Homo sapiens: one gene and its partners. The protein of the gene in region 3 interacts with the protein of the main gene of each other region in a pairwise test. Each region holds a gene or a part of one and is shown on either strand. Other genes may lie near its edges.

Region 1 (8,056 bases), on a different chromosome or scaffold from region 3:
TCGCTCATTTTTTTCATGGGTGGCACTTCCACACCAGCTCAGATGCCCTCAGTGCCACCTCAGTGCTTCCCTCCCACCCGGTTCCAACTAAGTACCTTTTCTTTTCTTTTTTTTGAGACGGAATCTCGCTCTGTAGCCCAGGCTGGAGTGCAGTGGCACAATCTCGGCTCTCTGCAACCTCTGCCTCCCAGGCTCAAGCGATTCTTCTGCCTCAGCCTCCTGAGTAGCTGGGATTACAGGCGTGTACCACCACACCCAGCTAATTTTTGTATTTTTAGTAGAGACGGGGTTTCACCATGTTGGTCAGGCTGGTCTTGAACTCCTGACCTCGTGATCCGCCCACCTCCACCTCCCAAAGTGCTGGGATTACAGGCGTGAGCCACCGCGCCCGGCCCCAGCTAAGTACCTTTTCTGTAGCCAGCACTGGGGAAACTCCCAGGGAGAGGAATGGGGAATTCCTGGGATCATGGAGAGACACTCCCAAGGGCTAGGAAAGCCTTCCATCTCTGCCTGGCATGCTTCTGAATAGGGGAGATGGCTCCAGCTTGTCCAGAGAGAGGAATCTTCCTAAAGTAGAACTACAGGTAGGAGAAAAGTACTTTTGGGGGACCCATGCTGGGCACCCTCCAGGGGGGTGGAGGGGAAGAGTAGGCACATCCCCCATCCCTTTAGTCTCAGCCCCTGGGAACCCACCCTGTCCCCTATCATCTCTTTTCAGATGGCCTTCTCAGACAGCCACAGAAGGTCTGTGGGCAGGACCTGGGCAGAGTGGGATGGGTTAAGATCCGATGGGGTGAAGGGCTGAGGCCAGGCCCTTAACTACCATCACTGGACATTTGGTTCCACCTAGTGGCCTCTGATGTTCCAACCGTTCTCACAGAGACCGGCACAAGGGGGTGCCCTTTCAGGCATTCAGTGTTTATTGAGCACCTACTCTGTGTGAGGCCAAATGTGAGGTTTGATGGAGGCATATCCATGAGCATAAAGAGGCTGGGCACGGTAGCTCACGCCTGTAATCCCACCATTTTGGGAGGCTGAGGTGGGTGGATTGCTTGAGCTCAGGAGGTCTAGACCAGCCTAGGTGATACAGGCAGACCCTATGTCTACCAAAAAAAACACAAAAGGCTGGGCATGGTGGCATGTGCCTGTGGGCCCAGCTACTTGGGAGGCTGAGGTGGGAGGATCAGTTGAGCCCAGGAGGAGTTGAGGCTGCAGTGAGCCTAGATCCTGCCACTGCACTCCAATCTGGGTGACAGAGCGAGACCCTGTCTCTGAAATAAAATAAAATAAAATAAAATAAAATAAAATAAAATAAAATAAGAAGCAGAAGGTCAGGCAGGGTGTGTGCACCTGTAGTCCTAGCTACTCTGGAGGCTGAGGTGGAAGGATTGCTTGATCCCAGGAGTTCAAGTCTGCAGTGAGTATGATCATGTCACTGTGCTCTAGCCTGGGCAATAGAGCAGGACTCTGTCTCTGAATTTTTTTTTTTTTAAAGAGCAGAGAACTAACATTTATTCTGCTCACACGTACCAGCCCTGGGCTTGGGTCCATACTGTATTGGCACGTGCCTGTGGAGCACTGAGGATCCCACAGCAGAGACAGGACTGCCAAGTGCCTGGCCTGGTCACTTGGCTTCTCTGGACTTCCGTTTCCACTCCTGAAAAATAAGAAGGTTGGTGTAGATTATCTCTAGCATCTCTTCCTATGTTAGAATTCTGTGAAGTCACACAAAGGAGTGGTTAAGAGTTTCAGCTTTGGGCTGGGTGAGGTGGCTCACACCTGTATTCCCAGAACTTTGGGAGGCTGAGGCGGGTAAATCACTCGAGCTCAGGAGTTTGAGATCAGCCTGGGCAACATGGCAAAAAGCCTGTCTCTACTAAAAATACAAAAATTAGTCAGGTGTGGTGGTGCACATCTGTGGTCCCAGCTACTCTGGAGGCTGAGGTGGGAAGATTGTTTGAGCCTGGGAGGCTGAGGTTGCCGTGAGCCAAGATCATGCCACTGCACTCCAGCCAGGGCAACAGAGCCAGACCCTGTCTCAAAAAAAAAAGAGTTTTAGCTTTGGAGTTGGACAAACCTACATTTGGATCCCAGCTGTCATTCACTAGCTGTGTGTTCTTAGGAAAGTTGCCTTACCTTTCAGAGTCTAGGGTAATAATATAAAGATTAAGTGACAATTATAGCAAGCATTTAGCACAGAGTGTGGCACTTGGTGAGTGGTGATGCTGCAGATGATGGATGATTCTAGTTACCCAAATCCCCAAATAGCACACCTCTCATCTCCTCTCCTCTCCCCTCCCCTCCCCTCCCCCAACTTCCTTTCCTTTTCTCTTTCTTTTTTGATGGAATCTTGCTCTGTCGCCCAGGCTGGAGTACATTGGCCGCAATCTCAGCTCACTGCAACCTCCGCCTTCCGGGTTCAAGTGATTCTCCTGCCTCAGCCTTCTAAATAGCTGGGATTACAGGTGCCTGCCACCACGCGTGGCTAATTTTTTTTTTTTTGTATTTTTAGTAGAGACGGGGGTTTCACCATGTTGGTCAGGCTGGTCTTGAACTCCTGACCTTGTGATCTGCCCACCTCAGCCTCCCAAAGTGCTGGGATTACACACATGAGCCACTGCGTCTGGCCCTTTTTTTTTTTTTTTTTTTTTTTGAGACAGAGTCTTGCTCTGTTGCCCAGGCTGGAGTGCAGTGGCATGATCTCGGATCACTGCAACCTCTGCCTCCTGGGTTCAAGTGATTCTGATGCCCTAGCCTCCCGAGTAGCTGGGATTACAGGTGTGCACTGCCACATCTGTCCAATTTTTGTATTTTTAGTAGAGATGGGGTTTCACCATGTTGTCTGGGCTGGTGAAGGTGGTAGGTTTCAATGACAGCAGCATAATGCCGTGGGAGTTGGGAGGAGGGAATGATCTGACTCACTCTGGGGCAGGTCTTCGAGTTAATTCTCCAGTGGATTCTCCTAGGCATCGTGTGGTCCGTCCTCAGAACTGTGCCTCCCTAATGTGGCTGAGTGGATTCACTACCCACCCCATGCTTGGGCTCTGCCTCGACCTCTCCCTCCCATGCACAGCCAAAGCCGCTCAAAGCTGCTGGTTTTCCTTGACTCTGGGCTTCTCTCCATCACCCACTGCCTCCCAACAGAACCCCCGGTCTCTGCATCCTCCTGTTCCAGATTGCTAGGACCCCAGCTGCCCATCAGGGACCCCTCTAAAATAACTTAGTTGAGTCATTGTTTGCCTACTTAACAACCTGTGATATTCTCCATTGCTTATGGGATAAAATCTAAACTCCTTGGCTTGGCATACAAAGTCCTTTACAGTCCAGTTCCTCCTCTGCTGATATTTCCAAGCTCTTTGTCCCAAGTGCCCATGCTCTCTCCCCACCTCCCTTGCACTCTAGTCCCCTCGACAGACTTGCTCTCTTGCGGGAACATCACCCACTTCCACATCACCCAGCCTTTGTGTGTGCTGTGTCTTCTGCCTAGAGCACCCTCCCTTCCCGTAGTCTGTCAGGCAAGCTCACAGCCATTTCTCGGGATCCATTCAAATGTCACCTCGCTTGGGAGGCCTTCCAGATCCCCCCCAGATTTTCTTGGGTTCCCTCAGCATCATGACCTTTGCCTTTCATAGCATCTATCATGCTGAACTTACACATTTACTTCCTTCTCTGGACTGAAAGCTCATTGGTGGCAGAGATCCTTTACATTTTTGTATTCTGAGTGTCTGGAACACAACACGTAGTCAGTAAAGACGTGTTATTGCAAATGTCCACACATCTTGTGTCTGGCTCAGAATATGGTGTTTTAGGCCGGGTGCGGTGGCTCCCAGCACTTTGGGAGGCTGAGGCAGGCGGATCACCTGAGGTTAGGAGTTTGAGACCAGCCTGGTCAACACGGTGAAACCCTGTCTCTACTAAAAATACAAAAATTAGCCGGGTATGGTGGCGGGCACTACAGTAACTGTAATCCCAGTTACTCAGGGGGCTGAGGCAGGAGAATCACTTGAACCCAGGAGGCGGAGGCTGCAGTGAGCCAAGACCGCGCCATTGCACTCCAGCCTGGGCAACCGAAAAAAAAAAAAAAATTAGAAATCTCTGGAGTCAGATCTGGGTTGTGGGCCTTGCTCTGCCTTGTATCAACTATGTGGCAAGTGACTGACCTCTACAAACCTCAGATTTGTGATCTGAGATTAATCAAGGGTTAATTGAGAAACCAGCTGAGTGCTAGCACCTAGTAAGTGTTCAGTAAGTGACAGTGATGGTTATTGCTGAGTTTTGAATGGAGGAGCTGCCTTAGAATCAGGAGACCTGCGCCCCAGTTCCCATTCTGCCCCACCTCCCTGTGTCACCCTAGGCAGGCCACATTTCCTCCCTAGTTTCAGGGGCCTGAAGCAGATGCCCTCTTAGGGCCCCACAGCCTGACATGCTGTAGGGCCTGAGAAGCGGCGTCGTGGAGGACGAGATGTGTGAGGGCAGCAAAGAGTGCTATGTGTCCAGCAGAGGGCCCTGCCCGGCCTGTGGCCGGAGGCTGGGAGGGAGGGCAGGCGAGTGATGCCAGACGCCTGACTGGAGGCGGATCCAGCCGGCCAGCTGCCTCTCTGGAGCCCAGCTCTTGGGCCCCCTGCACTCACCTGCTCTTCCTGGGCTGGCTGTCTCCTGCTCATCCAGCCATGCGGTGGCTGTGGCCCCTGGCTGTCTCTCTTGCTGTGATTTTGGCTGTGGGGCTAAGCAGGGTCTCTGGGGGTGCCCCCCTGCACCTGGGCAGGCACAGAGCCGAGACCCAGGAGCAGCAGAGCCGATCCAAGAGGGGCACCGAGGATGAGGAGGCCAAGGGCGTGCAGCAGTATGTGCCTGAGGAGTGGGCGGAGTACCCCCGGCCCATTCACCCTGCTGGCCTGCAGCCAACCAAGCCCTTGGTGGCCACCAGCCCTAACCCCGGCAAGGATGGGGGCACCCCAGACAGTGGGCAGGAACTGAGGGGCAATCTGACAGGAGCACCAGGGCAGAGGCTACAGATCCAGAACCCCCTGTATCCGGTGACCGAGAGCTCCTACAGTGCCTATGCCATCATGCTTCTGGCGCTGGTGGTGTTTGCGGTGGGCATTGTGGGCAACCTGTCGGTCATGTGCATCGTGTGGCACAGCTACTACCTGAAGAGTGCCTGGAACTCCATCCTTGCCAGCCTGGCCCTCTGGGATTTTCTGGTCCTCTTTTTCTGCCTCCCTATTGTCATCTTCAACGAGATCACCAAGCAGAGGCTACTGGGTGACGTTTCTTGTCGTGCCGTGCCCTTCATGGAGGTGAGTGTGTGTTCTGTTTGAGCTCTGCTGGGAGGCTGCAATCCAGGGAAGGGACTCAAAGTCTCCATCAGGTCTTTGGAAATGGAATTTGTGGGTGTGCAAAACCTGAGTCTTGGAGCTCTGACTTGCTCCTCCTTTACCTTGGAGAAGGAGACAAATACGGTATTGGTTTCTGGTTGCTCTCAAGAGAAGTAGGCAGGCCAGGGGGACAGGCGGGTGTGTGGGGCCCCTGGGTTCCAGCCCCAGCCTGATCTTCTGCTTCGGGAGCAACCTCAAGGCAGGCCTTTGCCACTTTCTCCAGACCCTAAGCTGCCCTCTCCCTTCCTCAGCCCTTCTCCCCTGTCCCACCCAAGATACCTCTGTCCTTTGTTGTGACTCCTCTTCTTTCCTCTGTACCCCCTGCCGCTGCCCTGCTCCCACAGCTTCCTTCGCTGCTCCTCCGTCTCCTGCCTCCTGAAGGAGTGCCTGAAGGGAGAGCCCAATTTCCTTCACACCCCTCTGGATCAAGTCAGCATCCACTCCATGAGAATACAAGCACCAGAAGCAAAAGACCGCTCCGTTCTTCCCTCCCTGCTGGGATTCTCATTGTTATCGTTGTCATTTCCATCAGCAACTTCCTAGATCCTCTCTGAAAGGGATACCTGGTTCTGGGCACTGGAACTAATGGGGGGCTCTAGTCTTAGCTCTGCCACTGACATACTGGGCGTCACTGGGCAGGTTGCATTACCTCTCCAATTTCTTTATCTCCCAACCAGGGCGGGTAGACCAGATGGTCCTTCCAGCTGGCCTGTTTCACAGTTCTAAAGTATACCACTATGCCCTTACTTCTGGTAGCGTCTACGATAAGTCCATGGGTGTCAAAGGATATGTAGAGCATAGAGAGACAACTTAAAACACTGCAGAAACATACTGATGTGTGCATTTATGCAAGACACAGCAAGGCCACCCTCTCTCTCTCTGTAAGACAAAATAAGCAAACAGTCTTTCAAATTTTGGCTGCATGGAGTGTAATGGAGTGACTGTGGTCTCCCTGTGAAGCTGCTGTTCCTTCGTGAATGATGCTGCATGACAAGGGGGACTTGCCTGGCCGGAGAAGGGCTCAGGATCAGCATTACGGACACAGGTCCTATTCCAAGGTCTGTCCCCACCTCACCATGTAACAATGATGATGTCATAGTTGGACAGACTCCCTGTGTCTCAGCAGTGGGTACAGTCCTTTCCTGTCCTTCCCAACCCAGGGAGACTGACTAACAGTGGTACAAAGTTACTCCACCCTGAAAGAAGACCCTGTGCCAGGCACAGTGGCTCATGCCTATAATCCCAGCACTTTGGGAGGCCGAGGCAGGTGGATCACTTGAGGTCAGGAGTTCGAGACCAGCCTGGCCAACATGGTGAAGCCCCATCTCTACTAAAAATAAAAAATTAGCCGGGTGTGGTGGCACGCACCTGCAGTCCCAGGTACTCAGGAGGCTGAGGCAGGAGAATCGCTTGAACTTGGCAGGCAGAGGTTGCAGTGAGCCAAGATTGCGCAGCCTGGGTGACAGAGTGAAATTCTGTCTCAAAAAAAAAAAAAAAAAAAAAAAAGACCCTGCAACTGGAGAGAGGCTTTGCATTCTTAGTTATCATCTTGTGCTCACGACCCAGGTGAGCTGTGCATGCTTAGACACAGGACTCTGAAATTGAGCAGACTAGATTAGAAACTGGGCTTTTCCCATCACTAGCTGTGTGATTTGGTAGATTACTTTAACTACCTAAATCTCAATTTCCTCATTGGTAAATTGGGGATAATAATAATAATAGCTATCTGGGTGAATTCTTAAGGGATTAAATGGGTGATGTCTATACAGTGCTTAGAATTAAAATGGTATAGAGGAGAAGGGGAAAAGGGCAGACACATACGACCTCTTGTTTGCATGTGGCTGGTAGGTCAATGAACACCTGGCCCTACCTGACTGTGGGTCCTGACATATGTAATGTCCTCCTGGGCCAGCCCCTCCACACCTCCTGGAGGATAGAGATGATCCACAGGCTGGTAGACAGTCTTCCTTCTAGGCTGGGTGGTGGGACAGGTGGAGGGAGAAAACACTCTTTCTTTTTTTGAGACAGAGTCTCACTCTGTCACCCACAACACCCTTCTTCTTTATTTGAGACGGAGTCTCATTCTGTCACCCAGAGTGGAATGCCGTGGTGTAATCTCAGCTCATTGCAACCTCCGCCTCCCAGGTTCAAACAATCCTCCCACCTCAGCCTCCCAAGTAGCTGGTACCGCAGGCGTGTGGTACCACGCCCGGCTAATTTTTGTATTTTTGGTAGAGACAGGGTTTCATCATATTGCCCAGGCTGATCTCCAACCCCTGAGCTCAAGCAATCTGCCTGCCTTGGTCTCCCAAAGTACTGGGATTGCAGGCGTGATCCACCGCGCCCAGCAACACCCTTTTATAGGGAGGATCTCAGGATGGTCCTGAGGAGGGAGCAGGAGAGGGCAGCTTGGAATAAAACTTGAGATATTTTTGAGATGTAAAATAGAAGGGCAGGGCCGGGCACGGTGGCTCACCCCTGTAATCCCAGCACTTTGGGAGGCCGAGGTGGGCGGATCACGAGGTCAGGAGATCGAGACCATCCTGGCCAACATGGTGAAACCCCATCTCTACTAAAAGTACAAAAATTAGCTGGGTGTGGTGGCGCACACCTATAATCCCAGCTACTCGGGAGGCTGAGGCAGGAGAATCACTTGAACCCGGGAGGTGGAGGTTGCA
Region 2 (5,555 bases), on a different chromosome or scaffold from region 3:
GCGCGCCTCTAGTCCCAGCTACTTGGGAGGCTGAGACAGGAGAATTGCTTGAACCCAGGAGGCGGAGATTGCAGTGAGCCGAGATCACACCATTATACTCCAGCCTGGGTGACAGAGCAAGACTCCACCTCAAAAAAAAAATTTCCCTCTGGGGGTGGTCAGAATTTGTGCCTGTGTTGTGTGAGTTTGTGAGATTGTAGCTTGGCCCAGGTAGGCAGCCCTGTGGCTGGAGGCTGTGGCAAGCTGTCAGAAGTTGCCCAGGCCAGGGCCTCAAGTGTGCAGGACAAGCTCGGGCACCTGGCTGCCTGCAGGTGAGGCCCTGAGGCCTGGGAGAGGCTGGGCTCCCCAGGTTTGCCCCAGGACAGTCTCCCCAGGACACAGGGCTGAGAGCGGACATGGGAAGTACCCCGGCCAGACACACAGAAAGCTGCTGGTTTTTTTTTTCCTCTGACCCGGAAAACCCCTGCAGCTGGGGTCTGAGGCTTTCAGTGAGAAGAGAGGCGAGAAAGGCACATGATTGTAAGACAAGCAAGGCTGGGACTAGGCGGCATTGTTTGGAATTCAATGACTTTTTAAACCGAGGAAACGTGAGTCATCCTCAAGACAGAATGGGTTTGTTAGATCTCGACATCCCTGGCAGAAACAGGCAGCGTTTGCAGGGGTCGCTGGGCTTGCAGGGAAGATTTTGGGGCGAGGAGGCGGTGCCTTGACTTCCGGGCTCAGGGTCCACCCCCTCCCTCACGTCCCAGGGACCTCTAAGAGAGAAATCTCCAGAGATAAAAGCCTGTGTGTCTCTTAGGTGCAGATTTGGGGCTCCAGCCGTGGCTGTTAATGGAAGGAGGCTCCCTTCTGCCACAGTGGCAGGACATTGCTTCTTGTGCTTCTGGACCCTCAACGAATGGGGCAGAGAGGGCTTAACTGCATCTAGAGAAGGCTGGATTAGCATGGCCAATTTGGGATTTTCTGGCATGGGGGCTACAGACCCCTACAGGATCCAGGCAAGATATGTGAGTAAATTGGGTCAGGAGGGACCCTGGAGAAGCCAGCATCCATCTGCCCATCGCAAGCTGCCTCTATACTCACTTCATCTGTTCCTAGTGGGAATGCAGCCCCTTTGGAGCGAAATCTTTTGATATCCTAAGTTTTTTTTTTTTTTTTTTTAGACAAAGTCCCGCTCTGTTGCCCAGGCTGGAGTGCAGTGGCACGATCTTAGCTCATTGCAACCCCTGCCTCCCAGGTTCAAGTGATTCTTCCGCCTCAGCCTCCTGTGTAGCTGGGATTACCGGTGGGCACCATCACTCTTGGCTAATTTTTGTATTTTTATTGGAGACGAGGTTTCACCATGTTGGCCAGGCTGGTCTCTAACTTCTGACCTCAAGTGATCTGCCTGCCTCGGCATCCCAAAGTGCTGGGATTACAGGCATGAGCCACACTGCACCCGGCCAAGATTTTTTTAATATAAAATTTTTACATGAAGTCTTCAGGTTTTCATGAAATCTAATTTTATAATGTTGGTAATTTTTTAAAAGTATATTGGACGAACTGAATGAATGTTTGAGGACCAGGCGTTTGAAGACGGTGAATGGGCTCCTGGGGCCAAGCGTTTGGGATGAGGGACTGGTCCCTGGTTGTCAGCAGAGGGCCCCTTCCTGCCAGTCTGGTTCCATATCCAGCTTGAAATATCTGGTCCTCTTGGTCCTGACCCTGGCATTTGCTTAGAGCCTTGAGCTTAGGATGTGGCCAAGAGGGAGACAAAAATTCTTCCCCCTGAAGGCAGAGAGGGATGTGAGGCCCAGCCCAGGACTGGCCACAGAGCCAAACCTTGCAGTGGTACCAGGGATGGCCTGGGCTTGGCCCTGGACCACACTTGGAGGAGTAGCCTGTGTTTCTTTAGCTGGTACAAAGAGATGGGTCATGGATTGGGCTCTTTCTGTGAGGAATGGGTCTGGCACTGCCACTACCCCATCACTGAGGCCCTCCTGTCATTCCCCTCCTCCAGCCTCAGGTGTGTTCATGCTCCCTGCTCAGCAGGCCTCCTGGGGACCAGGGCCTCATGGGCTGACTCCCTGGAAACTGTGGCCTCTTGAGGCCCTGTTGGTGGGAAAGACCCAGGTGTTTGCATCACCATCCAATGGCTATTCAAGGAGTGTGCCAGTGGGAACCAAGAAGCCCCAACCGTTGGTCTTGTCTTTTTTTTTTTTTTTTTTTTTTTTTTTGAGACAGGATCTCACTGTGTCACCCAGGCTGGAGTGCAGTGGTGTGATCATGACTCACTGCAGCCTCAACCTCCCGGCTCCAGGTGATCTTCCCATCTCAGCCTCCCAAGTAGCTGAGATCACAGGCATGCGCCACCATGCCTGGCTAACTTTTTTATTTTTGTAGAGATGGGGCCTACCTATGTTCCCCAGGCTGGTCTCTAACTCCTGGGCTCAAGCGATCCTTCCACTTCAGCCCCGCAAAGTGCTGGGATTACAGGTGTGAACCACCGTGTCTGGCCTCTCTTTGTGTCTTAAGCCTTTTCTCTCCCCACTCCCTACCCCCATGTCCTGCAGTTAATGATCTTTAACATCAGCGCCACCGTTCTCTACATCACCGCCTTCATCGCCTGCTCTGCGGCAGTTGACCTGACATCCCTGAGGGGCACCCGGCCTTATAACCAGCGCGCGGCTGCCTCGGTGAGTCTGCTTCCCAGGCTCCCTTGGTGGTCTGCAGGGTCTCAGCCCCAGGACTCAGGCTGCTCGCTTGGTCTGAGGCCAGGCACCTGCCACCTCCTGAGGGGTTGTCACCTGAACACTCAGTGGGTCTTAGAGGGGAGCCGGGCCGCCTCCAGGCTTCCATAATTAACAGTGGAGAGTGGTGTGTGGTGGGCAATGGAAGTTTTGGGTTAACTATTTTTTCTTTTTTTTGAGATGGAATCTTGCTCTGTTGCCCAGGCTGGAGTGCGGTGACGTGATCTCAGCTCACTGCAACCTCTGCCTCTTGGGTTTAAGTGATTCTCCTGACTCAGCCTCCCAAGTAGCTGGGACTAGAGGTGTGTGCTGCCACACCCGCTAATTTTTTTGTATTTTGTATTTTTTTTGGAGATGGAGTCTCACGCCTGGCTAATTTTTGTATTTTTAGTAGAGACGGAGTTTCACCATGTTGGCCAGGCTGGTCTTTTGAACTCCTGACCTCAGGTGATCCACTCGCCTTGGCCTGTTAAAGTGCTGAGATTACAGGTGTGAGCTGCCACACGCGGCCTGGGCTGACTATTGAACCTTGTTGTAAATCAGCTGTGCCACACTGCCTTAGGGTCACGTGCCCCCTTGGAGAATGTGAAAAACATGCTCTCCCACTGACAAGTGCACGTGCAAAAACCTTTTGGTTTAAACCATTCTGGGAGATTCATAGGCTCTCCCATGAAACCCAAACTCTGGGCCCACGTCAGGTGGCCAGTGAAGTGGCAGTAGTCCCCTCCACGCCTGTCACCCTTCACACCACCAGGCCCTGCACACCATCTCCTCCCAGGATCCTGCGACACCCACAGTGAGGGAGAGGAAGGGACTACCAGTTCCTTTTGACAGACAGGAGGCTCCTGCTCAGAGAAGTTGGACGCCAGGCCTGGAGCCACGGCCAAGCCCAGGGGAGGGCAGGGCCTCAATGGGCACGCATTTGGTTCCTTACTCTTCCTGATGAGGGCAGTTTTGAAATCAGCAAATTCAGTGATGGGGACAGAGACGGGGAGCTTCTGAATGTGGCTGCAGGTGTTAGTATAGAGGCTTGAACTGGTTCTAGGAGATTCCTAGGGTGTCCTTTGAATGTTGTCTTTTTAGAACTAAATCCTTGCTAGGTGTCCCCTCTGTCACTCTTATCTTCTCCTTCATTGCCCTTATCACAATCTGACAGGCCCTGCCTGTGGTTCTTAGCTGTTTCCCATGGTTAGAAGGTAATGTTGGTATCCCAGGACCCTGGTGCTCATCAGCCCCATGATAAACAGCTGTGAAATGCATCTGGCTAAGTGTGAGATGGTGCGGCTGCCACAACCCCTCCTGCCTGGCCTGAGATCTGGTTGGAGCTTGTGTCACTGTCACCCTCTCGGTCCTTAAGCCCTTCTCACCTCTCTTTCAGTTCTTTGCGTGTTTGGTGATGATCGCCTATGGAGTGAGTGCCTTCTTCAGCTACCAGGCCTGGCGAGGAGTAGGCAGCAATGCGGCCACCAGTCAGATGGCTGGCGGCTATGCCTAAACCACCTGTGCCACGGCCCCCTCTGGGGCTGAAGCCGCCGCTGGGTCACAGAGCAGGGTCACCCTGCAAGCCTGAAGCTGGGGAGCCCTGCGTGGAGTCAGCCCAACAGGGACTGCATTTGCTCCTCTCTGCCCGTCAGACATAAGCTCTCACAGCGCTAAGGAAGCAGGCCCAGGCTGGCAGGCATCTCGGCTTGCAGGAGGCCAACTGCTGAGACCTCTTCTCCATCCCCCTTATTCAGTGGAAGATGACGGGGGATCTGAGGCTGTGTCTCTGCCTTGTCTTTAGAGGACTTCAGCGTCCAAGACTGGGGCCCACCCTTCTCACCAGCACTAAATGCACTAACAAGGACTCCAGACCTGCAGCCCCAGACCCGCCGTAGTATAAGCCTAACAAGCAACACGTAGCACCTTAGTCTTTGTTCCAGGAGAGCTGAGCAAGCTGGTGAAACCACTCTCCTTCCTTTAAACACCGTTTCAACCAACCTCTCCCTGGAGCCAACCTGTAAAAAGTGGGTTGATTGCTGACAGCATGGTCTTCCCTCCCTGCATTTCAGACATACCAGTTACTGAAAGCAAATCAGTTTTAAGTGATTTCTCAGTGCTGAAAAGCCTGTCCAGGTTTCCTTCCCTTTCCCAAGCCTCTCTCTGTAATACTCCCTTTGGGCGAAGCTAACATCGGTGCCTCCCCGACCTTGCTGACTAGGCACATGGGACGCAAAGGAGGGAGGGAAGCAAGGCCTTGCCTGGCGAGTTGTCATGTGGTTGGTGGTGACTGTTTTATTTTTTTTAATAAAAATAAAGATGAGAGAAATTATTTGGACAAGATGTTGGCAAATCACTTTTACAGGTGCTTGTAACCTCCAGGAGACCTCAGCTTGACTGTAGAAGATGCCTGCTGTAGGGCAGTTCACGTTCTGGAGTCGTTCAGCACCACCTGCGAACTCTTTGACCGGAGGAAGGCTGCCTATACTTCCTGCTTGCTGGGTCTGGAACAGTCCTGGTTTATGCTGTTTGTGCTGGCATAAATAGAATAGCACGGCCTTTTATTCTCACAAGTGACTCAGTTTGACAATAACTTAGTCACCCTTGCTTTGGGCAGGTTAGGTGAGCTTACTGAATCAAAGATTTCAACAATATCATCTACCTTGAAAGTCTGTGAAGCTTGGAGGTCATATAATCAAGGTGGCTGGCCATGCTGCCTGCTCAGAGCTGGTAGAGACAGCAGAGGAAAGCAGCTGAGTACTCCTGAGCTTATTTTTCCAACACCACAGAACAACGTTCTCTGAACAATAAGGTAAAAGCATTTCTAGGTACCCTCTGTACCCTTTT
Region 3 (7,659 bases):
CTCGTGATCCGCCTGCCTCGGCCTCCCAAAGTGCTGGGATTACAGGCGTGAGCCACCGTGCCTGGCCTGAAAATGCTTCTTATACAAAATTTAAAAGTTTGGGAAAATATTGTCACAATTTGTCTAATTCTGAAACATGACATGTTTACTTGGGGTTATTTATCGTTTTTTTGGTGGGAGGGCAGGGAACTGGGTCTCACCCTGTCACCCAGGCTGGAGTGCAGTGGCACAATCTCAGCTCACTGCAACCTCTGCCTCCCAGGCTCAAGCCATCCTCCTGCCTCAGCTTCCTGAATAGCTGGGACTACAAGTGCACTCCACTATGCCCAGCTAATTTTTGTACTTTTTGTAGAGATGGGGTTTTGCCATGTTACCCAGGCTGGTCTTGAACTCCTGAGCTCAAGTGATCTGCCTACCTTGGCCTCCCAAAGTGCTGGGATTACAGGCATGAGCCATGGCCCCCAGCCATTTATCATTTTTTACAACCATCCATGGTTACCATTCTCTGCTACATTATCGGGTCACACTTGGAGGCCCATGAAAGAGGGTGTCTTACTAAAGATGAAAGGAGGTGATTCAGGCCTTTTCCCCCATGCACCTCCACAGAATTGACTGCTTCTCTCCAGAGTGTTTCTCTAATGTTCACAAGGCCTTAAAATGAGGGGGCTCACGGAGTGTCTAAGAGGAAGCTGGAGTCAGGCAGTGGGAATAAAAAGAATCCCTTGACTCCTCAGAAGCTTTCCTAGGCCAGGCACGGTGGCTCCTGCCTGTAATCCCAGCACTTTGGGAGGCCAAGGCTGAGGGATTGCCTGAGTTCAAGAGTTTGAGACCAGCCTGGGCAACATGGCGAAACCCCAGAAAATTAGCCAGGCATGGTAGTATGCGCCTGTAGTCCCAGCTGGTCGGGAGGCTGAGGTGGGAGGATCGCTTGAGCCTGGGAGGTGGAAGTTGCAGTGAGCCGAGATGTCACCACTGCACCACTGGGTGACAGAGCAAGACCCTGTATAAAAAAATTAATTAATTTTAAAAAAAAGTTTTTCCGGAAGTTTAGTATTATTTTTTCCCTTTCCATGGAAGATTTTAAAACATATTTCTTTCTTTTCTTTTCTTTTGTCTTGCTCTGTTGCTCAGGCTAGTGTCTAGTGGCACAATCATAGCTCACTGCAGCCTTGAACACCTCAGCCTCTGGAGTAGCTGGGACTACAGGCATGTGCCGCCATGCCCAGCTGATGTTTATTTTTTGTAGAGATGGGGTCTTGCTATGTTGTCCAGGCTGGTCTCCAACTCCTGGCTCAAGCTCCTTCACCTCAACCTCTCAAAGTGCTGAGGTGTGAGCTACCACACCCATCCTAGAAACATATTTCTACCTCATATTTATCAAGTAGCTTTGAATATATGGCCCATCATCTTCTTTACTGTTTCAGTTTCTTCCTCAATAAACCAAACTAGTCTTCCTGACTCATGTGGAGCTGAGTCACCTGGTGGTGAGGGTGGAGGAGTGAGAGATCTAAATTTGGTTGACATGGTGTGAGAAATCAGCTTATCTTTCATAGAACCCTTCAGTCCAGGAAAATGCTGGGACTGAACCAATCATTTCAAAGATGCCCAGAACCAAAGCCCTTCTACCAACATATAACTCCCAATGTCAGCCATCAGTTGAGGTCCTGTGGCCACACTGGCCAGGAGGGACGAAGGGAGGAGAGTGTGAAGGGATACAGCAGTTTTTCGAAATTGGAGTCCTTAAGTGCCTCTGGAGATCTTATTGAATGCTTAAAATATCAGGCTTAAAATATAAATTGTTGCACCTGTAATCCTAGCTGCTCAGGAGGCTGAGGCAGGAGAATCACTTGAACCTGGGAGGCGAAGGCTGCAGTGAGCTGAGATCAAGCCACTGCACTCCAGCCTGGGCGACACAGAGCAAGACTCCGTTTCAAAAAAAGAAGAATTTCCATCATTCCTACCTTTAAGGGTGTTTTCCTTCCAAGAACCTCTAGTCCAAAGGCGAGTGGGACGGGAGGTGTTCCTCACTTCCCATCAATTTTCCCTTCAAAGGCTCTCCTTCTTTCACAGTCTGGCGCTGGAGGCAGTTAGCAGGAGAGCCTTAATAAAATTAGGATTACCCATCACATCTCTCCCCCGAGCCAATGAATAGAAAGAACAATAGTTACCATTATGCACACTTTTTTTTTTAAAGACTTTATTTTTCAGCGTAGTTTTAGGTTCACAGCAAAATTGAGAAGAAGGTACAGAGTTCTGATACACCCCCAGCCCCACACATGTATAGCCTCCCCCATTAATCCTAGCACTTGGGAGGCTGAAGCAGGCAGATAGCCTGAGCTCATGAGTTTGTGACCAGCCTGGGCAACGTGGCTAAACCCAGTCTCTACAAAAAAAAAAAAAAAAAAAAAATTAGCCGGGCATAGTGGTGAGTGCCTGTAGTGCCAGCTACTCAGGAGGCTGAGGTGGGAGGATGGCTTGAACCCAGGAGGTGGAGGTTGTAGTGAGCCAAGATCATGCAACTGCATTCAAACCTGGGCAACAGAACCAGACCTTGTCTCTAAATAAATAAAAACAACAACAAAAAAGAATATACACAGCCTATGTTCAAGGAAGAGTAACAACAAAAAGCTTCATGGCTGATGAATAGTGTGTGGTGAAGGGGAGTATTTGAGTATGAGGAAGACTGAAACAAATAAGGCTAGACTGAAACACTTTATTTTAATAGTTTTTTCTTTTTTCTTTTTGAAACAGAGTAGTCTCATTCTGTCGCCCAGGCTGGAGTGCAGTGGCACAATCACAGCTCACTGCAGCTGCATCCTCGACTTCTCGAACTCCAGTGATTCTCCCACCTCAGCCACCAGAGTAGCTGGGACCGCAGGTGCGCACCACCAGGCCCAGCTAATTTTTGTATTTTTTTTACAGGTGGCTTCACCATGTTGCCCAGGATGGTCTCAAACTCTTGAGCTCAAGCAATCTGCCCGCCTCAGCCTCCCGAAGTTTTGAGATTATAGGAGTGAGTCTAGACTGAAACATTTTGAATGCCACACTCTAGTTTACAGAACTTTATTCAGTAAACACTGGAGACCAACAAACGTTATCAAGCAAAGAAATGTTCAGATTTACATTTTACAGAGATAATTGTGACCAGAAGGGATGGACTTGAGAGTGAAATCAGAGCACTGTTTCTTTCAATAGCCGCATGAGAATTTGAGGGGTGGGGAAGACAAGGCACATTAAAATGAAAATTTCTGGGTCCACCCTTTATTGAATCAGAATCTCTGGGTTCAAGGCCTGGGAATCTGCATGTTACATCTCAAACATAGGAGTGATTCTTGTAGGCTCTGAAGTCTGAGCTATAGACTAGAATCAGAATGGCCAGTTAGGAAGCTTTTGCAATTATCCAATTAAGAAATGAAATGTCCTGGGTGCCATGGCTCATGCCTGTAATCCCAGCAATCTGGGAGGCTCAGGCGGGAGGATCACTTGAGTCCAGGAGTTCGAGACCAGCCTGAGCAACATAGTGAGGCCACTCATCTATACAAAACAATTAAAAAGTAGCTGGGCTTGGTGGCAGGCACCTGTGGTCCCAGTTTCTTGGGAGGCTAAGGTGGCAGGACTGCTTGGGCCCAGAAGTTGGAGGCTGCAGTAAGCTATTATTGCACCGCTGCACTCCAGCTGAGTGACAGAGCAAGACTCTAACTCAAAAAAGAAAAAGAGGGCCGGGAGCGGTGGCTCACGCCTATAATCCCAGCACTTTGGAAGGCTGAAGCAGGAGGATCACTTGAGGCCAGGAGTTCGAGAACAGCCTGTCCAACATGGCGAAACCCCGTCGCTATTAAAAATACAAAAATTATCTGGGCATGGTGGTAAGCGCCTGTAATCCCAGCTACTCAGGAGGCTGAGGCAGGAGAATCACCTGAACCCGAGAGGCAGAGGTTGCAGTGAGCTGAGATCGCGCCGCTGCACTCCAGCCTTGGCGATAGAGGCAGACTCTGCCTCCAAATACATAAGTAAATAAATAACAGATCTGTAGGCGGAAAACAATGTGGCAGTAATTGTTCCTTTGCCTTGGTGTCCCTGGGCAAAAGGCAGGCCCCCACTCCGGGGCATCGCTCGTCGCCGCTCCATTCTCTGCAGACCGAAGTTTCCCCAGGCCTGGGAAGACTAAGTGGGAGGCGCCCACCGTGCGAAGATCCTCCCGGCTTCCAGGGAAGGGAGGCTGGGCCTGCAAATAATAGCCGGGGGCAGGAGAAAGGCTCCGATTGGTCGGAGGGAGGGTGACGAACAAGGGGCGGAGTTTTCCTGGGGACTGGTGGGGGAAGTAAAAGGGAGGGGGTGTGCACCGCCGGGTGTCAGTTTCGGAACCCCAGCCAGCTCACCTCTGCGCCGCTGAACCCGATCCGAGCCTCCGGCAAAGGTTTTTCCCTCCTCCCCCGGCCGAGGGCTTCTGCAGCCCGGGCACCCCCGCCCCGCGGCGCCCCACATTCCCCCAGCCCGGGGCCCTTGGCGCGTGCGCTCCGTGCGGCTGTGCTCCGCGGGACTTTGTTTGTTTCCTCCTCGTCCCTCTTTGTTGGGCTGAACACCAGCCTCGTCAAAGCCCCCCACTCCGGAGGGAGTTCGGCTTCTCCAGCAGGGCGGCTGCAGCGCGCTGCCCCGACCCCGCCTGCGGCCCCTCACGCCGCTAGTGCTCCCACCCCGCCCTCCTGGCACCCCGCCTGCGTCCGTTCGCCCGAGGAAGCCAACCGCGACTTCATTGATGCACCCATTCCAGTGGTGTAACGGTGAGTCCCCGGGGCGAGGGCCGAGCCTACGTGGGGCTGGTGGGAGCCGCGGCGCGGGGTGCGAGGTCGGACAGCAGCGCGCTGGTCCTCCCTCGGGAACCAAGTTTCTCCTGAAATGGGACAGTCGAGAAGGCGTCTTGGCGCCCCACTCTGCTCTGCACAGCGCGGAATTTGAAACTATCCAGGTTTCACTCCAGAGCCTGGAAGGGGCCTCCGGACTGGCGGCGGGCCGGGGGCGTGGGAGCCGAGGGGTTCCCGGCCTTTGTGTGGCGGCCCGGCTCTTCTACCCCCTTCCCCTGCCTTTGTGCGCTCAAACTCTGTTCTTTGTTGTGGTTGTTGGAGGAGAATTAAATCCGCACTCGGGCTGGGATCTCCTAGAGGGAGCTCAAGTTCCCGGCCTGAAACTTTGCAGGCTATTGTAAATATGTATACCGTGCAGCGTGCGGGACTGGGCGCGGGGGTAGCTTCCTCTGGCTTTGTTGGTTTCCCACGGGCTGCTGGCGTGGCTTGGGTGCTTGCGGAAGACTGGATTAAAGAGTCGCTTTCGGCCAGGCGCGGTGGCTCACGCCTGTAATCCCAGCACTTTGGGAGGCCGAGGCGGGCGGATCACCTGAAGTCGGGAGTTCGAGACCAGCCTAACCAACATGGAGAAACTCCGTCTCTACTAAAAATACAAAATTAGCCGGGAGTGGTGGCGCATGCCTGTAAGCCCAGCTACTTGGGAGGCTGAGGCAGGAGAATCGCTTGAACCCAGGAGGCGGAGATTGCAGTGAGCCTAGATCGTGCCATTACACTCCAGCCTGGGCAACAAGAGCGAAACTCCATCTAAAAAAAAGCCGTTTTCCTGAGTTGATAAACCCTCGCAGAGAGCTCCGCGCCCGGCTGTCCCTGGGGTGCGAGGCTGGCCTGGCGGGAGCCGTGTTTCTGGCCACAAGGCCAGATTAGGGTGTCTGCTCCTGAGCCCAAGTGAAGGCCACACCTCCAGACGCGACAACCCCTCGCCCCATTTCTCCCCAGGCCTGGGTGATGCTTCTAAGTTAGTTCATTTCACCTGAGGCTTTTTGGAGGTTCAGGTGATACTGGGTTAGGCTGGAGTCTGATTCCTCAGCGAGCTACCTGAAAGGTAGGTGTTTCTGAGCGGGACACTTCAAAACCTTGGATACTAATCGCCCCCCACCCCACCCGCTCCAGTCCTCCTGGGGTCCTAGTCTTGACCGCGTTGTTCCGATGCTTGGAGAGTTTCTGGGAGAGAGAGATGGGAAGCAGCTGGCCTTATCTCTCAGTATGGCAAGCGAGCTAGTTACAGGGGGAAAAAAATCATTCTTTAGAGTAGACTCCTGCCAGATCTTGGATTAATTATGTCAAGAGGCTTTGTTTTGAGGCAGGGTTTGGGTAGCATGTATACCCCACATCCCCCCACCCCGCCTTCCTCCTTTTGCTGGTCGGATCTCATTTCCTGAAAATGAACCAAGCCGTGTGTGATAGGCGGTTTTGTGGGAGAGGGGGCAGAGGATGGGGGTTGAGGAAGGCCCTTGCACCCTAGCATCTGGGAAAGATTCCCGTTGGCTGGGAAAGAGAAGCAGTTCCCAGATCCCCTGGTCTTTCTTGGCCAGCCCTTGTCTGACGTCATTCCTGCTCCCAGCCTGCCAGATGAGATGAGACATTCTGATGTCAGTGCTTTCATAGGTTGGCCGAGACAATGGAACAGAGACTTAGGGAGAAATGAGGCAGCTGTCAGTAACACTGCCCTTTCTGGGCAGCGCCCTTTCATATCAGATTTTAGACTTGCTGCTTTATTTTTTTTATTTTTTATTTTTTATTTTTTTGAGACTGAGTTTCGCTCTTGTTGTCCAGGCTGGAGTGCAATGGTGTGATCTCGGCTCACCACAACCTCCGCCTCCCGGGTTCAAGCGGTTCTCCTGCCTCAGCTTCCCGAGTACCTGGGATTACAGGCATGTGCCACCATGGCCGGCTAATTTTGTATTTTTAGTAGAGAGGGGGTTTCTCCATGTTGTTCAGACTGGTCTTGAACTTTTGACCTCAGGTGATCTGCCCACCTCAGCCTCCCAAAGTGCTGGGATTACAGGCGTGAGCCACTGCGCCCAGCCTACTTTAATTTTTTTTTTGAGAGAGGGTCTCACTCCGACAACCATGCTGGAGTGCAGTGGCACGATCAGGGCTCACTGCGGCCTCCAACTCCCAGGCTGAAGGGATCCTCCTGCCTCAGCCTCCCAGCATAGCTGGAACCACAGGTGTGTGCAACCATACCTGGCTACTGGCTAATTTTTAATTAATTAATTAATTAATCTACTTTTTGGGGATAGGGTTTCACTACATTGCCTATGCTGGTCTTGAACTCCTGGGCTCAAGCAGTCCTCCCACCACGGACTCTCAAAATGCTGGAATTACCTGCAGGAGCCACCTTGTCTGGCCCTCTTTGCACTTCTTAGAAAAGTGACTGAGAGATCCTGTCCTTTGACTCCTGTGAAGAAGCAACCCTTCCCTCACCCCTTCAGAAACTACCTGGAGCCCCTCTTTCCTGGGGCTGGTATTCTCTGTCCTTATACAGTTTTAAAGAAAAACTTACTACAGTGTCAGCTTTTGACCAGTAGACTATTTTGCCATTTCTTTAATAGTAACACAAGCAAATGAACCATCTCCTCTTGACTATGCTCTTCCCACCGACCTCTTTATCACGTGAAATACCAAGCTCACTGATTCAATCAGTGGGAGATAAAGGGGAAGCCTTTATCAGGCAGGATAAGTTGGTGGGGATAAACTGATCAGAGGACTTGCGGGGACCATCGTGCTTGTGGAGTGCACAGATATCCTCTGTAATAGCTCTGACCAGGTTCTGCAAGTTCCCAGAACTGGAAAC
Region 4 (7,479 bases), on a different chromosome or scaffold from region 3:
TCGTTTTCTAATATAAAACTATTCGAATGACTGATTGAAACAGAAAGGGAACCAAAGGGAGGAGGATATAAGATAGGGAACAAGGAAACCATATTTGGGGGAGCTTTAAAAGGTGACATGGTTAAGAGAATGGGGTTTTATGAAAGAAAGGTTCTTAACAAGTAATCATTGTTCGCAAAGCTATAGTTATCAAAACACCCTTTGCTGAGAACTTGCTCTCTGTCCACAGCTGTCCCCGAAGAAGACCTGGGAAGGCTTCATTGGGGGCTTCTTTGCTACTGTGGTGTTTGGCCTTCTGGTAGGTGGTGGCTTTCAGCTGTGTAAGGGATTGGGTGGACAGAGGCCTCATACCACCTTCCAAGGCCTGTCCAGAGCTGGAGAGTGTCTTTGGAGGCCAGGACTGTCCTGCTGAATGGCAACCTTGCCCTGAAGAGGGCCACTGGCCATGCCAGCCATCCACCAGCTTTCAGGCAGGGTGCTAGCAGTTGGAGAGCACCTTCTATGCCCTCTCGCGCCCAGGCATGGTGACATCAGCAGGTAGCCTTCTTGTCAGGCATTTGATGTTCCAAGGTCAGGGTGAGTGCACCCAAGGGAAGATGAGATACACAGCTTTTCTCCTATGTGTGCCTTGCCCAGAGGTGGGTGATTTTCCTGCCCTTTCCAGAGCACCATTCTCTGCTTCTGACCCTTGGGCCAGTCCTCCTTCTTCAGCACTGTCTGGCTGCCCTTCAGTGCTCACCGCCCAGCTTTGTTGCTTTCCAGCCTTGTTCCTCCTGAGATCTGCCTCTCACTGTGCCCCTTCCCCATGGCCTCTCTCCAGTTATCACTGACTTCAGAGATCTTGAGGAAAGTGGTCCTAGCTCCCCAAATGGGGAGAGTCTTCTTGTAGTTCTTTGCCCCAGTCCCTTCAGGTTTTCCCGGATTCTTTCGGGGCCTGGGTGTTTGGGTTCCTGTATGTAACCTTGGTGGGTCATGAGCCTCTTTTTTTTTTTTTAATTGAGGTAAAATATGTATGGTAAAACATGAACCTCTGAGCACATAGCTCGCAGTTAGCAGGGTACTAGGCACCCTCAGGAACATGGCCAAACCAGGTGCCTGTGTCTGGGCTGGATGGTTGGAACTTACTTCCTTGCCGGTCTCTCTGTTATTCCTCCTCAGCTGTCCTATGTGATGTCCGGGTACAGATGCTTTGTCTGCCCTGTGGAGTACAACAATGACACCAACAGCTTCACTGTGGACTGTGAGCCCTCGGACCTGTTTCGCCTGCAGGAGTACAACATTCCTGGGGTGATCCAGTCAGTCATTGGCTGGGTATGTGCCACTCACAGGGGGTGAGCGGCCTCCATGGACAGTGGCTACAAAGAGAGATCCCCCTCCATCACCTGCCCTCTGAAAAAAGCTAGCTTCCTCCTTCCCAAAGCTGTAAGCCCCAGGATGAAGGAGAATTGCTCACGCCAGGTCAGGGTATGGGCAGGACAGCTTTCCCCCAACATCAGATTGTTTAGACCAGTGGTTTTCAAAGTGTGTTCTGTGGATCCCTGGAGGGCCCTGGGATCCTTTTAGTTGCGGGGGTAGGGTGGGGGGGTCTGTGAGGTCACAACTGTTTCATAATTAGACTATGACATTATTTTCCTTTTTCAATGTGTTGACATTTGCTGTGATACGGCGCAAAAGCAGCAGTGGTTAAAACTGCGTTAAGGCAGTGGGTTCCTCATGCCACACACTCACAGTACAAACAGGCCAGTTCTAATGAATGTCTATGAAATAGTAAAGTTACTAATTTTGTTAAATCTTGACCTTTGTACACACACCTTTTTAACACTCTCTACTGAAATGGAAAGTATGTGTAAAACATTTCTGCTAAGTACTGTAGTACAGTGCTTGCCTAAAGGGAAAGCATGTGTGCAGTTGTTTGAGTTGTGAGCTAAATTAGCTGCTTTTTTTTTAGAAAAGAAAGTAAATTTTACTTGGAAAGAACCAACAAATTATAATTTTTCAGACTTGGGTATTTGGCAGACATTTTTCTTGAAAAGGATGAAGTGAGCCTATCACTTTAAAGAAAACAACTGAGGCTAGGCACAGTGGCTCACACCTGAAATCCCAGCACTTTGGAAGGCCGAGGCAGGCAGATCTCTTGAGGTCAGGAGTTCCAGACCAGCCTGGGTAACATGGCGAAACCCCGTCTTTACTAAAAATACAAAAAAATATAGCTGGGGATGGTGGCGTGTGCCTGTAATCCCAGCTACCAGCTACTCAGGAGGTTGAGTTGCTTGAACCCAGGAGGCGGAGGATGCAGTGAGCCAAGATCGCACCACTGCACTCCAGCCTGGGTGACAGAGTGAGACTGTCTCAAAAAAAAAAAAAAAAAGAAAAGAAAAATGACTGACAGTAATTGTTACCAAGGATAAAATTTGGCTTTCAAATGAAAATTAGAATTTTGGAAAGCTTAACCTGCCACTGTGAACTTGACAGCTTCCTAATACTTAAAAGCCTTTTCTGATGAGGTCTGTGATGATTCTTAACGTACGTGTGTGTGTGTGTGTGTGTGTGTGTTGATCACATGAGAAAAAACACAAACATATTTGACACGGTATAATGAAATGTGTCTACATTTGGAAGATTTACATAACTCAGTGAACCATTATTTTCTAAATGGCTGATGCATGGTGTTATATAGTCATGCATGGGTAAAAGATCCGTTCAAGTATAAGATAGACCAATGGATTTTAATGTAAGAGAGAACAAAGTCCATTGATAGAATTCTAGATTCCATATCACACCTAATATTCAAGAAATGACTACTTGTCAAGCTCTGGTGTAGTGTCAGAGAATACCCAAAACCATCTGAGGCTACGACTAAAATACTCTTTTCAACTATGTATCTGCGTACGGCTGGATTTTCTTTATATACTTCCACCAAAACAGCATGTTGCAACAGATTGAATGCAGAATATTTTAATGTTTTCCATTAACTTAGATATTAGAAATTTACAAAATGGGAAAAATTCACTCCTCTTATTGATTTAAAACCTACATGTATATAATTAGTTTCATAAAGAGTTACGAGGTTGGATGTCTTGGTCTGTCTAGTGTTGATAGAACACTTGGGGCTGGGTAATTTACAAAGAAAAGAGGTTTACTTAGCTTCTTTCTGCAGGCTGAGAAGTGTGAGAAGTGTGGCATTGGCTGCTGCCTGGCTTCTGGTGAGGGCTTTTTATGCTGCATTGTAACATGGCGGAGAAGGTCAAAGGTGGAAGCAGACACATGCAAAGAGGCAAAACCAGGGGCTTCATCACTTCATAACAACCCATTCCCTCGGGATGCCAGTGCTAATCTAGTCTCTTGACAGAACTCACTACTAGGAGAAAGGCACCAAGCCATTCATGAGGGATTTGCCCCTGTGACCCAAACACCTCCCACTAGGCATCACCTCCCAGTGAGGCCACAATGAGGATCAAATTTCAACATGAGTTGACAACTCAAACCGTAACACTGGGCATGTATGCACCTAAACTTTTACTTCATTTACTCTTCTCAGAAAACGGTCCGGATGTACCCCTTCCAGATTCACAGCATCGCTCTCTCCACCTTTGCCTCGCTCATTGGCCCCTTTGGAGGATTCTTCGCAAGTGGATTCAAACGAGCCTTTAAAATCAAAGTAGGAAAACCGTCTTACGTTCCTCTCATCTCACTCCCTCACCCATCTTCTGCCTTTCTCCCCCTTCCCTGCCCCCTCCAAAATACTAGGCTGTACACCCTGGCATTTAATGTGTGATCTTGACCCATGCACTGAATTTAGGTGAGTTAATTAATAACAATATTTTCAGGAAAATGCAATCGTTGTTTTTCAGTTTATTTGTTAATATATCTTTCTTCAAAAGAACATTTTGGGCCAGGCAGTGGCTCATGTCTGTAACCCCAGCACTTTAAGAGGCCAAGGCGGGAGGATCACTTGAGGCTAGGAGTTAGAAAGTAGCCTGAGCAACATAGCAAGACTCCTGTCTTTATTAAGTAAATGAAATAAGAACATTTTGTAATGCAATAAAATTGTGTCCTAATATAGCCTCACCATTAGATTTCATACTTCTCACCTTCTATTGCCCTCAGCTACTCAGCACAGAAGCCTGACATTGGGGTGGGACCATTAGGCTGGGATTGGTTAGTGGCTGAGCCCAAGTTCACCCATCCTTCCCCTGCCTCTAACAGGACTTTGCCAATACCATTCCTGGCCATGGAGGCATCATGGATCGCTTTGACTGCCAGTATCTGATGGCCACCTTTGTCAATGTATACATCGCCAGTTTTATCAGGTATAGTACCTTTCCATCTGAACCAAGTTGGTGGATTTTTAAGTACGGTGCAATTCTAGAATTTTAGCGGCATCTAAGTTCCAGTGAAAAGCATCCCAAATAATGCAGTTTTCAGTTGTTTCTGCTTACAGATTTTCTGAGGCCTCCTGTCATCTGTTAATAGATAACTCTCTGATCCAGAGATCAGAGCAGCCACTCAGATAATCAGGCCCTGGAAGCTTCCGGGCCCTAGCTCAGTGCTGTTTCTTCACATTCTGTTCCAGAGGCCCTAACCCAAGCAAACTGATTCAGCAGTTCCTGACTTTACGGCCAGATCAGCAGCTCCACATCTTCAACACGCTGCGGTCTCATCTGATCGACAAAGGGATGCTGACATCCACCACAGAGGACGAGTAGGGGCCACCCAGGGCCAGGAGAACAGGAACAGAACTGAGCAGGGGCAGGTCTCCAAGGCAAGCCCAGCTGGTGTGACTTAGACAATGACGAGGCTTCAACTCACTGTCTTTTTTTTTTTTTTTTGGAGGGTATTTTTTATTTGTGGGTTCAAAAAATCTGTATATACAGTCTATGTGTTTAGAATTTGTGTTGTAAGTAAACTACAGCTTTGAGTTGGAAAGAAGTCACGGGTTGTAAAACCATTTGGATTTTTTTAAAACAAAAGTATTAATAATCTGGAAGACAGTGTTGCCCAGGTCAGGAGTGTTTTCTTGGTGGTTCCAGCCCCCATCAATTGAACTGTTTCTGGGCTCAGTCAGACACAGACATTCATCTGTGTCTGACCAAATCAGGGGACTTCCCCACCTGTGGTGGGAGGCACAGCTTAGATGTTTTGTACACCTGGTCTTTTCTAGAAATCCCTGCTTGGAGCTGCAGAAGGGTTGCCTTCTGTAGGTCGGAGGAATGGAGGCTTACTAACCAGGTAAGCCTTCTATGCATCCACACCAAAATCCTGCAGAATGTAAGTAAGCTCTGCTTTATAAGATGGGTTCACCTTCATCGCAGACTGAAAGTTTCAGTTTTTATTTTTTTCAGAAAGCACGAAAAATTATTTATAATAGTCTGGAGAAAAAACACACTGTAATATTTCAAGTGTATGCAGTAGAATGTACTGTAACTGAGCCCTTTCCCACATGTCTAGGCTCCAATGTCTCCTGTAGGTCCACCTAACTGTGTGTTTTCAGGGACAATGCCATCCATGTTTGTGCTGTAGACTTGCTGCTGCTGAATCCTTTCTGGGGACTTTCTCATCGGGCAGGGAGCAGAGGGCTTCTCGTTCATGCACCCTTTGCCTGAACACCCATGTAGCTGCTGTGTTGTGTATATATTACTCTTAAGAGGAGTGTGTGTGTCTGTGTTTGTTTTAAAAGTCACTTATTTCTTACAGTGATTTCAATTGCACCATGACTTCTTCACTAAAACCACAAAGTCCTGCTTAAAACTATGGAAAACCTAACCTGATTAGAGCCTTGACTATTTTGAAGATTAAATGCACACTTTTTATATAATGTGACCAGTTTAAATGTAGTTTGTATTGTACTGGGGGACCTTTCGTTGTTGTTGTTTGCTTAAACTGTGATTTTTTTTCCCCTCCCTAATTTCAGGGGTGAGATTGACTTTGGGAAGACAGATTAGTTCTTTGTCAGGCCAACAAGTGATGGAGTGCGGGAGAGAGAACTTGGCACCCAAATATATCAAACTATTCCGTGCCGTGGATGTTTTCATTGCCAACGAGGGTGTAATGATTTGCTTCTGCACCTTGGTCTAGTGCTGGTTTGTGGTGTTTTTGTTTGTAAATTAGCCTCACTGCCTCCCTGAAAGTGCACAGTCAGCCCAGGTCTCTAGAGTGTCCAGCAGAGGATGGAGCCCTCGGGATGTTTCAGCTCACACATCCTTGAGTGACTTCCCATATGTGTGTGGGGCTGAAGCGGCTTCTTTCCGCTGAACTTTTATTTCCATTTCAGCCTCGTGGCTTCTCTTATTCAGGTCCAAGGCCCCTTAAAAACAAAACATATTATCGCAAGGGCTTTCATTTCAGTATTGGCTGTGTCACTGGCAGGATGCATCACTCTCCAGGGCCTCTTTTTCGGAGCTACTCCCAATTCCACTCTTCTGTGATTCTGGCTGAGCAAGTTCATGCCGGTAGAGGCTCATTAAGTGAGGTCCTGGGCACCCCCCAAACAGGAAGTGTTTTCAGGCCCTTACATGCTTATCCTTAAGGTGAGTAGGTATCTCAGCAGCACACCCGAACAGTAAAGGTGATCAATAACGAAACTGTAGTTTTCAGATTGAAGAATGAACCTGGATCACCAAACTAGATACCGAAAGGGCTCCTCATTTGTCTCTTTTGTCCCATTGTGGGCATATGGTGGGCTCCTTGAGAGGAGGGAGTCTCAGCTGGGGCCTGGCTGCAGAGACCTGCTCTTGAATAGGGCTGCCTTTGGGATCAGGGAGCCGAGCATACTGGGCAAGGCTCATCATGTTCCTTTGTGGAAGTGGTTACTTGGTGGGGGTGGGGTGGGGAAGGGGGGTCTAGGAAGCCGAAGCTGAGTGCGCACTAGAGCTGCTAGCAGGCAGGCCAGAGGGTCAGCTTGTGTTTTATTTTCTGATTTCTCCTGCATGCTTTCTGGAGATGAGGATTTTTTGTCAGGTAGCTAGGAGAGCACTGCCACCTTGTGTCCATATAGCACAATGTTTCTCTTTCCTATTCACAGACAAGATTCAAGAAACCATTTTTACGTGTGTACATTCAAATCTTCATGAATGGCATCACTTGCTTTAGACCCATTTTTTTTTTATTGGTCAGAAATAAAATGTGACTGCAACTGTGTGCCCTCCCTTGTCGTGAATTCCCTGTTTATCACTTCCATGCATGGTTTTATGCTTCTCATTTGTTTATGTATTCATGAATACTGCATAGTCCTGATTCAGAGACTTTTGCTTTGCTTTCCAACTTGTATCCCTACATTCTCACAACAGCCTTCTTACCTCGGGTGAGAGTCATGAGCACCTTACCAGGCAGGGAGCTTCCCCAGGATAGTGTGGTGGAGTCAGGACTCACTCCATCCTGCACTTTACCCACAGGACACCTGGAGGGTCCCCCAGCCCTGCTTGCTTTTGTGAACGTCGTGTGAGTACACCGAGGTGTTGCAGCTTTCCTTCCCTCTAGCTC

What was found.
Region 1: the proteins of RNF122 (region 3) and GPR37L1 interact in binary tests that used the Homo sapiens proteins (3 or more experiments, as listed by UniProt).
Region 2: the proteins of RNF122 (region 3) and PLLP interact in binary tests that used the Homo sapiens proteins (3 or more experiments, as listed by UniProt).
Region 4: the proteins of RNF122 (region 3) and CDS2 interact in binary tests that used the Homo sapiens proteins (3 or more experiments, as listed by UniProt).

The regions. Positions count from the first base shown.
Region 1 is NC_000001.11:202,118,294-202,126,349, forward strand, and holds the start of GPR37L1 (G-protein coupled receptor 37-like 1 precursor), read left to right. Parts: upstream 1-4,623; 5' UTR 4,624-4,670; coding exon 4,671-5,300; exon of another isoform or gene 5,301-5,440; intron 5,441-5,657; exon of another isoform or gene 5,658-5,765; intron 5,766-7,248; exon of another isoform or gene 7,249-7,425; intron 7,426-8,056. UniProt on the Homo sapiens protein: G-protein coupled receptor. Has been shown to bind the neuroprotective and glioprotective factor prosaposin (PSAP), leading to endocytosis followed by an ERK phosphorylation cascade. However, other studies have shown that prosaposin does not increase activity.
Region 2 is NC_000016.10:57,255,582-57,261,136, reverse strand, and holds the end of PLLP (plasmolipin), read left to right. Parts: intron 1-2,552; coding exon 2,553-2,675; intron 2,676-4,107; coding exon 4,108-4,224; 3' UTR 4,225-5,040; downstream 5,041-5,555. UniProt on the Homo sapiens protein: Main component of the myelin sheath that plays an important role in myelin membrane biogenesis and myelination. Plays an essential function in apical endocytosis. Regulates epithelial development through the regulation of apical endocytosis.
Region 3 is NC_000008.11:33,563,821-33,571,479, reverse strand, and holds the start of RNF122 (RING finger protein 122), read left to right. Parts: upstream 1-4,351; 5' UTR 4,352-4,756; coding exon 4,757-4,781; intron 4,782-5,574; exon of another isoform or gene 5,575-5,904; intron 5,905-7,659. UniProt on the Homo sapiens protein: May induce necrosis and apoptosis. May play a role in cell viability.
Region 4 is NC_000020.11:5,185,529-5,193,007, forward strand, and holds part of CDS2 (phosphatidate cytidylyltransferase 2), read left to right. Parts: intron 1-229; coding exon 230-298; intron 299-1,158; coding exon 1,159-1,311; coding exon of another isoform or gene 1,312-1,331; intron 1,332-3,538; coding exon 3,539-3,658; intron 3,659-4,206; coding exon 4,207-4,310; intron 4,311-4,573; coding exon 4,574-4,706; 3' UTR 4,707-7,479. UniProt on the Homo sapiens protein: Catalyzes the conversion of phosphatidic acid (PA) to CDP-diacylglycerol (CDP-DAG), an essential intermediate in the synthesis of phosphatidylglycerol, cardiolipin and phosphatidylinositol.